Homo sapiens: one gene and its partner. The protein of the gene in region 1 interacts with the protein of each later gene in a biochemical or structural test. Each region holds a gene or a part of one and is shown on either strand. Other genes may lie near its edges.

Region 1 (3,743 bases):
CCAGAAAACCCAGCCCGGTTCTCCCACCTGCGGGGAAGAAATGAAGCAATGATAATGAAGACACTCCCATGCCAAGCCCATACTGCCCTGAGCAATCAGTTTTGGTGGGGAGAATTTGCTAGCAGAAGGCAGGACATAAAGTCCCCACAGCAGCCTCACTGGGTGTGGCAGCAAATCATTCCTGAGGCCTGGCCGGTGCTACCAGGCACAGCAGGGGTCCGTGCAGAAGAACTAGATTTATTCCATTAATATACCGTTACAGCAACAATGTCTGCTGAGTACTCCGGAACTGTAATTCACATTTCCTGAGGCTGTAGTAGGGAGAATTTGGAAGCAGGGCAGCACAGTGCTAACCAGCAGGCTCTGGGTGGGACAGACCTGGGTTTGAGTCCTAGCTTTGCCTTTCACTATCTGCATTATAGTCAGCGAGTGGCTCTATCATATCTCTCAGTATCTTCACCTGTGGAGTTGGGGGGGTGATGCTAATGTTAGCTAACATTTATGGGGTGATTATTGTTGTTAAAACTCAGTACACCGGGCGCGGTGGCTCACGCCTGTAATCCCAGCACTTTGGGAGGCCAAGGTGGGCAGATCACCTGAGGTCAGAAGTTTGAGACCAGCCTGGCTAACATGGTGAAACCCCGTCCCTACTAAAAATACAAAAATTAGCCGGGCGTGGTGGCGGGTGCCTGTAATCCCAACTACTGGGGAGGCTGAGGCAGGAGAATTGCTTGAACCCGGGAGGCGGAGGTTGCAGAGAGCCGAGACCGCCCCATTGTACTCCAGCCTGGGCAACAAGAGCGAAACTCTGTCTCAAAACAAAAAACAAACGAAAAAACACAGTAAATTGTCCCTATTTGACTACTAAGAGCTATTTTAAAATAGAATTTATTATCTAAGTACAGAAAGGTGTAATTATCCCCCCTACACCCGTTAGAACCCTTGATGACACTAAATAAATAATACATGAATACGGTTCAAAAATGGGCATCATAGAGTATAAAATAAAGAATGCTTTCATTTTCAACCCAAATTCAGCAATTTCATAGGATGCCAGGCTCAGCTCTAAAGCCTTATATGTATTCAGTGCGCTGAAATTCAACAACCTCACGAGGTAGGTATAACCAATAATAATTCTAGGCGGGGCGTGGTGGCTCACGCCTGTAATCCTAGCACTTCGGGAGGCCGAGGCGGGCGGATCACCTGAGGTTCGAGACCAGCCTGACGAACATGGAGAAACCCCGTCTCTAATAAAAATACAAAATTAGCCGGGCGTGGTGACGCATACCTGTAATCCCAGCTACTCGGGAGGCTGACGCCGGAAAATCGCTTGAACCCGGGAGGCGGAGGTTGCAGTGAGCCGAGATCGCGCCACTGCACTCCAGCCTGGGCAACAAGAGCGAAACTCCGTCCCAATAATAATAATAATTAATAATAATAATAATAACAATAATAATAATAATTCTAAAGGGAAGCAGAGGGATCTGGCGGGAAAGTGCCAGCAAACCTAACAGGCCTCCACAAGTGTCTTTAAAGTTTCATAGGGGTCGGTATATGTGATTAACTGCCAAAGAAGAATATTCGCCGTGTGTCCGAAACGCAGTCCCCTGGGGCGCCACACTCGGAGCCTACTTGAACCGAAGAGTCCCTCCCTGGGCCAACGAAGGACCCAATTCCCCTCGCCCCGGATCCAGCCTCTAAGTGGTTTCCCGGGTAAGGTCAGCAGAGGTCCGCCGCCTCAACCAGTCTTGTTAGAGTAGGCACAAAAGCATTCAGAGTGACTGCCACTGTAGCCACTCAACGCCGAGCCTAGGCCTGCTTTTTTTGCAGTTAGAGTGAAACTTTCCATTGGTGGAGTCACCCCAAAGGAGGCGGGACGGAGCGGGAAAGTCCTGCCTACCTTGGCCTTCCCAGCCAATCGCAGCATCTATGCGTCAGCCTCCGGTTCGGTTGCGCTGCGCGTAGTGGTCTGGGCGACCTGAGGGCGGGGCCGGGAGCAGGCCCCGGGCTGTGGGGAGGGTGCGCTTCCCGCGGGCGCGCGGAGTGAGGACGGTGACAGCCACGCGCGCGCGTACGCGCCCGATGCAGCGCGGCCCCGTGACCCTAGTCGGCCGCTGAGAGGCGCGCGGAGTCTGGGCCGCTGCCGTCTAGGGGTCCCGTCCCGAGGCGTCCCCGGCATCTCCGGCCCGAATCCCGGAGTGCCGGGTCGCGCCTGCACCGAAGGTCCCGGCTCCTGTGCCCTCCCTGCAGCCGTCAGGGCCCGTCCCCCAACTCCCCTTTCCGCTCAGGCAGGGTCCTCGCGGCCCATGCTGGCCGCTGGGGACCCGCGCAGCCCAGACCGTTCCCGGGCCGGGCAGCCGGCCACCATGGTGGCCCTGAGGCCTGTGCAGCAACTCCAGGGGGGCTAAAGGGCTCAGAGTGCAGGCCGTGGGGCGCGAGGGTCCCGGGCCTGAGCCCCGCGCCATGGCCGGGGCCATCGCTTCCCGCATGAGCTTCAGCTCTCTCAAGAGGAAGCAACCCAAGACGTTCACCGTGAGGATCGTCACCATGGACGCCGAGATGGAGTTCAATTGCGAGGTAACCGGCCGGCAGCCCCGACTGCTGCGGTGACAGTCGAGGTGGAAGCTCGAGAGGTTCTCTTTATATCATCTTATGGGTGTAGCTAGAGACGGGCAGAACCGGAAGGGCCAACTAGGCCCAAAACCTCATGTTAAAGATGATTGCTGCTTTTTTTCATAGGACTTTTGGGTTTTGGCATTTCCTGAAGGTTATTTTCATTCATTGTTATTGGAAGAAGCTGGATGCTCCTGTGATAGAAAATTCAGGATTTCAGTGTCAGGCTTAAGTTAGGCTTACGCTTAAAAGCTTGAAAGTTTATTCTTTCATTAGGTAATATTGTTATGTACCCAGGTATTAGAAGTTGCGTCTTGTTTATTGGAAAGCCAATACTTGTTTCCCTTTTCTAAAGCTTGCATATTCTGGGAAAAAAAACCCTTTGAAGAACGATATAACATCTCATACTTACTTTCCACATAGTTTCCAACATGATGATAACAGCTATCAATTGTTCAGTATTTTCAAAGTGCTAGACATTTGCACATTTAATCCTCAGAACAAACCCATTTATCTAGTAAATGGCAAGGTGGGGTTTTGAACCAAGCTCACAGCCCGTACAGTACTGCTTCTCAAGTAATTTAAGTTCTTGCTGCTAAAAGTGTGGTTTGTGGACCAGCAGCATTGGCAGCAGTAAGCAAGGGTTGGCATGCTTTTTCTGTACAGGACCACATAGTAAATATTTTCAACTTTGTAGACTAGAGAATCTCTGTTGGAGTTATTCAACTCTTCAACTCTACCATTGTAACACAAAAGCAGCCTTAGATAAGATCAGCTTCCAGCATGACAGCTTAAGGAACCCATTCCTCTGTAAAACTGGTGAAAATTCTTTTTTGTTTTGTTTCGTTTTGAGACAGAATCTCACTCTGTCACCGAGGCTGGCATGCAGTAGTGTGATCATGGCTTACTGCAACCCTGACCAACCTCCCTGGCTCAATCAGTCCTCCTGCCTCAGCCTCTCGAGTAGCTGGGACCACAGGCGTGTGCCACCACACCTGGCTAATTTTTTTTTTTTTTTTTTTTTTGAGACGGAGTCTCGCTCTGTCACCCAGAGTGCACCGGGCTAGAGTGCAATGGCGCGATCTTGTCTCACTGCCACCTCCACTTCCAGGTTCAAGTGATTCTCCTGC
Region 2 (3,743 bases), on another chromosome or scaffold:
TTTTCTTTGAATTGTTACTTCTTTTTGGTCGTTGGTACACTGAGTTCTCTAGGGTGATTTTTTGCACCTAAGGGTAAGAATTCAAAATTGTGATGCAGGTATTTACAGTAGAACTCTGAATCCTTGTCTTTCACATTTTTGGAATAATTACTGGGGCTTTACTAGAGTACCTTGCTAAGGTGTGTGTGGCCTTTTTTTTTTTTTTAATTAAAAAACAACGTAAGTGGGAGTGGAATGGGGTAAGGGAGGTGAATCATTCATCAAATGAAAATTTATTTAAATACCGTTGTCTGTGATAAAGGAATAACCATTTCAGAATAACACTGGAAGAATTAATTTAAATGGATGCACTTCCCAATATTGTTACTGTTTTCTTTGGTATTTCATTAACATTGTGAGTGGGGAGGTGCTGGGGTCCATGGTAAAAAAATAAGTAAGTGAAAGGCAAACAACTTTGCTTTCTAGTGGATTTCCCTTATTACCTAATGAGGGCAGCAGCTTACAAGTTGATTGTGTTCAATTCAACAAATTTGTTTTAGTACCTAAGTGCCTGCTATATGTACAGAGTGAAGAAAGAAATAACCCTACCTTTAAGAGAGTTTACGGTCTGGTTGTGTTGATTCACCTTCTGAGAAAAAATGTTATTTGCTTTCCTCAATTTTTTTCCTATCAAAAGTAAACATAGGTTCAAACATTCAAACCTATGAAGGCCTAAAAGGAAGAATCATCTTCAGTTTGCTGTGACGATTTCACTGAGTTTTATTTTAAAATATTCATTTAAAAATACATACAAACATATAAACCCATCAGGCCAGGTTCTAGTGATCTGAGATATAAGCATGATACAAACTACTTGGCTGCCGTGTATTTTTGTTTTATTTTAATCCAGGTGATCAGGTCTGTATGGGGAAAAAGCCCTGGGGCTTTTTCAAACAGGAAGGGCCCTCCTCCCTCTGAATGCCCGCAGTGCCGCCCTGTGCACTTTACAGAACAAGGAGAAAGTCAGTTTCTTCAAACTGCTTTTCTAAAGAGCGTTTCCATTCGTGGTCCTGGTGATTCCACCATCTTTTCTTCACAACAGTGACGGTTCTGGAATTTCTACACAGCCTGAGGGGCTGACGGGGTAGACCAGGTGACTGGGAAGGGGCAGTGGCACATGACAAAAATTTGAGGAAACGTCCAGTTTCCGTTTCAGGGAATGCGCATAGGGGAAAACGCAAGTCCCCACGCCATCACGGGGCCCTCCACCGCGGCCGGACGACCCCTCTCTCGGGAGTGACTGGGGCAGGGCACCTGGCCTCAGGTTCGAGCGGAGCCTGCACTGAGAGGCAGGAGTTGGATGAACCACTTGTAGGGTCTGCTCCCAGCTACCCAAAGCGAAAGGGTGGGCGAAAAAGCATTTGCAAAAGAATACATTAACCTCACAAGGAACGACCCCCACCACCCATCCTCCAGCGCCCAAGGTTTCCCACGAAGAGGTCGCCGTCGCCCTTCTCCAAGTTGGGTAGAACCTATAAGGCATCACCAACTGCATCTCAAACCAACCAAGCAAGTGACGCTCCAAAACCTCCCTAAATACCCTCTCTCCCCAGCATTCCGAACGCAACATCAAGGGCGAAAAGAGGCTGCACAAATCACGTAGAAAATTAGACCGCCTCTTTCCATGGCGATAATCGAATTAGCCTCAAATTAAACGTGAAATTGGCCCTCTCCGGCTGTGGAGACAAAGCCCCTATTGTCCTGCTCGGGTAGCGGCAGCAGCAGTGCCCACCCCGCCCCGGCCAGCCTGGTCGGTCCCCGCCGCTGGGAGGATGAGGTCCGGGCTGGACCCGGGAAGAGCCTCAGCTGGAGAGGACGTGGACGCGCCCGAGGCTCGGCTCCCTGGGCGGCTGCGGGGCTCCGGGCAGGAGGAGAGGGCGGGCGAAGCAGAGGGAGCGGGCGGGAGTGGGGAGGGAGGAGTGCGGAGGGCGGAGGGCGTGCGGGAGGGATCCCGGGAGTGCGCTTGTGTGTGTGTGCGCGCGCGCCCGCCCCGCGCGCTCCTCTCCCCGCCCCTCGCCCCCTCCCTGCGAGCGCCCTCCTCTCCTCCTCCCCCCGCCCCCCGCGCTCCCGCCCAGCCCCCGGAATCAGTGCCGCTGTTGCCGTGCAGGCTGCGGATTCCTCCAGTCCCTCCCTCGGCCGCCTCTCCTCCCGGAGCGAGCGCGCAGCCCTGCGCAGCAGCGCCCACTGGTCCCGTCCTGTGAGCCCCGGCCCCAGCCGCGGACAGACCCGCGGAGTCGCCTCCCGGCCCACCCGCCCGGCCGCCGAGGAGCGGGAGGAGGACGGGACCCCGGCGCCCCCACCCCATCCCCGGGAGGTAGGTAGGGGGCCCGAGGCAGGGAGATGCCAACTCACTGGGGCTGCCTCCCGGGTGGGCTCCGCGGCGGCGGACGGGCGGGAGGAGGGGCGCGGGCCCAGGGCCGGAGGACGCCGCTGCCCGCCTGCCCTGCGCCCGGGGAGCCGCGTGGGGGCAGGGAGGCTGCAAAGCCCGGGCGGGGGCGGCGCGGGGAGCCCGGGTCGCGGGTGCTCATTGGTACTCGGATGATGCGGGACGAGGGGCGGCAGGCTCTGCGGTGAGGCGGCAGCAGACCCGCCGTGCGCACCGCTGCCGTCCGGCCCCAGCCCCGGCGCGGCGCGGCGATTCCTCCTCCCTGCCTCCGCCGGCGCCTCCCTGCAGCCGGGCGCGGCGGCCCCTGACGCGGAGGCCCCTGGCGCGGAGGTGGGTGCGGAGCGGACAGCGGACAGCCGGAGGGTCTATTTTCAGGTGCCCTCTCTGTGGCCCCGCGGGTGGGGAGCGGGGGCGGCGGTGACAGGGCCGGGCTCTGCGCGTAGCGGTGCAGGGGATGCGGCCAGGCGTGGTCCCGGCTGCGCCGCGCTGCAGCTGAGCCGGAGGCGGCGGCCCCGCGCCCCCACCTCCGCCCCATCCCTGCGCTTGCTACCCTCGTGCGCCCGCCCCCCCCCCGCCCTTTCTGCCGTCCCCACTCTCCCAGGGCTGGGCGTGAGCCGCCTCCGGGCGCCGAGCCGCCGCTGCGCCCGCCCTTCAGCTCCTGCCACCCTCTCTTCAACAGGTTTGTCTCAGCGCAGGGACCCTCCGGGCCTGCTTTGGGTAGGTGGGCTGGCTCGTCATCACCCCCCACACCACGCCCACGGCCCTCTTTTAGGGGGCGCCTTCTCTTTGTTTTTGTGATAGGAAAGGTGCCAACTGCTGCCATCAGATGAGGAGGGGGTGGGGATCAGAACGCAAACCTCTGTCCATTATTTTTCCAATCGAAAGCCAGGCCAGATAGTAAGTGAGGACAGGGTGCGTGTGGGGGTGCTTCGGCGGAGCAGAAAATTGAATTCGGTGGGGTTTATTTGGGCGGGGATGTGCTTTTTTGGCAAGATGGATGGCTCACGGTGCCCTCGCCGTGATGCAGCACAATGCAGCAGTATCGCAGCTTCCTTGGTTCTCGCTGGCGGGGCTTGGCACGGCCGCTCGGCGCCTGCGGCCCCCGCCCGGCCCCACCCAGGCCCGGGGCTGCCCTTGGCCGAGGCCTGGAGCTGCTGCTACCTTGTCCTGCAGCTTCTGCTGGATGTGGCGTCAGGAGGACCAGGTCAGCTAGGTGTGAGCAGGGGAGAGTCTTTTCTTTTGGGATGATCCCTCCTGCACCTCTTCTTGGGCTGCGCTCTGCCGGAGGGGCGCCCTGCATCACCAGTGCAGGCAGAGG

The links. Proteins that work in one complex are often made in the same cells at the same time.
Region 2: the proteins of NF2 (region 1) and SPTBN1 form a complex in vitro, tested with the Homo sapiens proteins (2 studies listed by BioGRID and IntAct).

Annotation. Positions count from the first base shown.
Region 1 is NC_000022.11:29,601,536-29,605,278, forward strand, and holds the start of NF2 (merlin), read left to right. Parts: upstream 1-2,097; 5' UTR 2,098-2,463; coding exon 2,464-2,577; intron 2,578-3,743. UniProt on the Homo sapiens protein: Probable regulator of the Hippo/SWH (Sav/Wts/Hpo) signaling pathway, a signaling pathway that plays a pivotal role in tumor suppression by restricting proliferation and promoting apoptosis.
Region 2 is NC_000002.12:54,454,166-54,457,908, forward strand, and holds the start of SPTBN1 (spectrin beta chain, non-erythrocytic 1), read left to right. Parts: upstream 1-2,161; 5' UTR 2,162-2,353; intron 2,354-2,565; exon of another isoform or gene 2,566-2,800; intron 2,801-3,001; exon of another isoform or gene 3,002-3,142; intron 3,143-3,226; exon of another isoform or gene 3,227-3,322; intron 3,323-3,543; exon of another isoform or gene 3,544-3,638; intron 3,639-3,743. UniProt on the Homo sapiens protein: Fodrin, which seems to be involved in secretion, interacts with calmodulin in a calcium-dependent manner and is thus candidate for the calcium-dependent movement of the cytoskeleton at the membrane.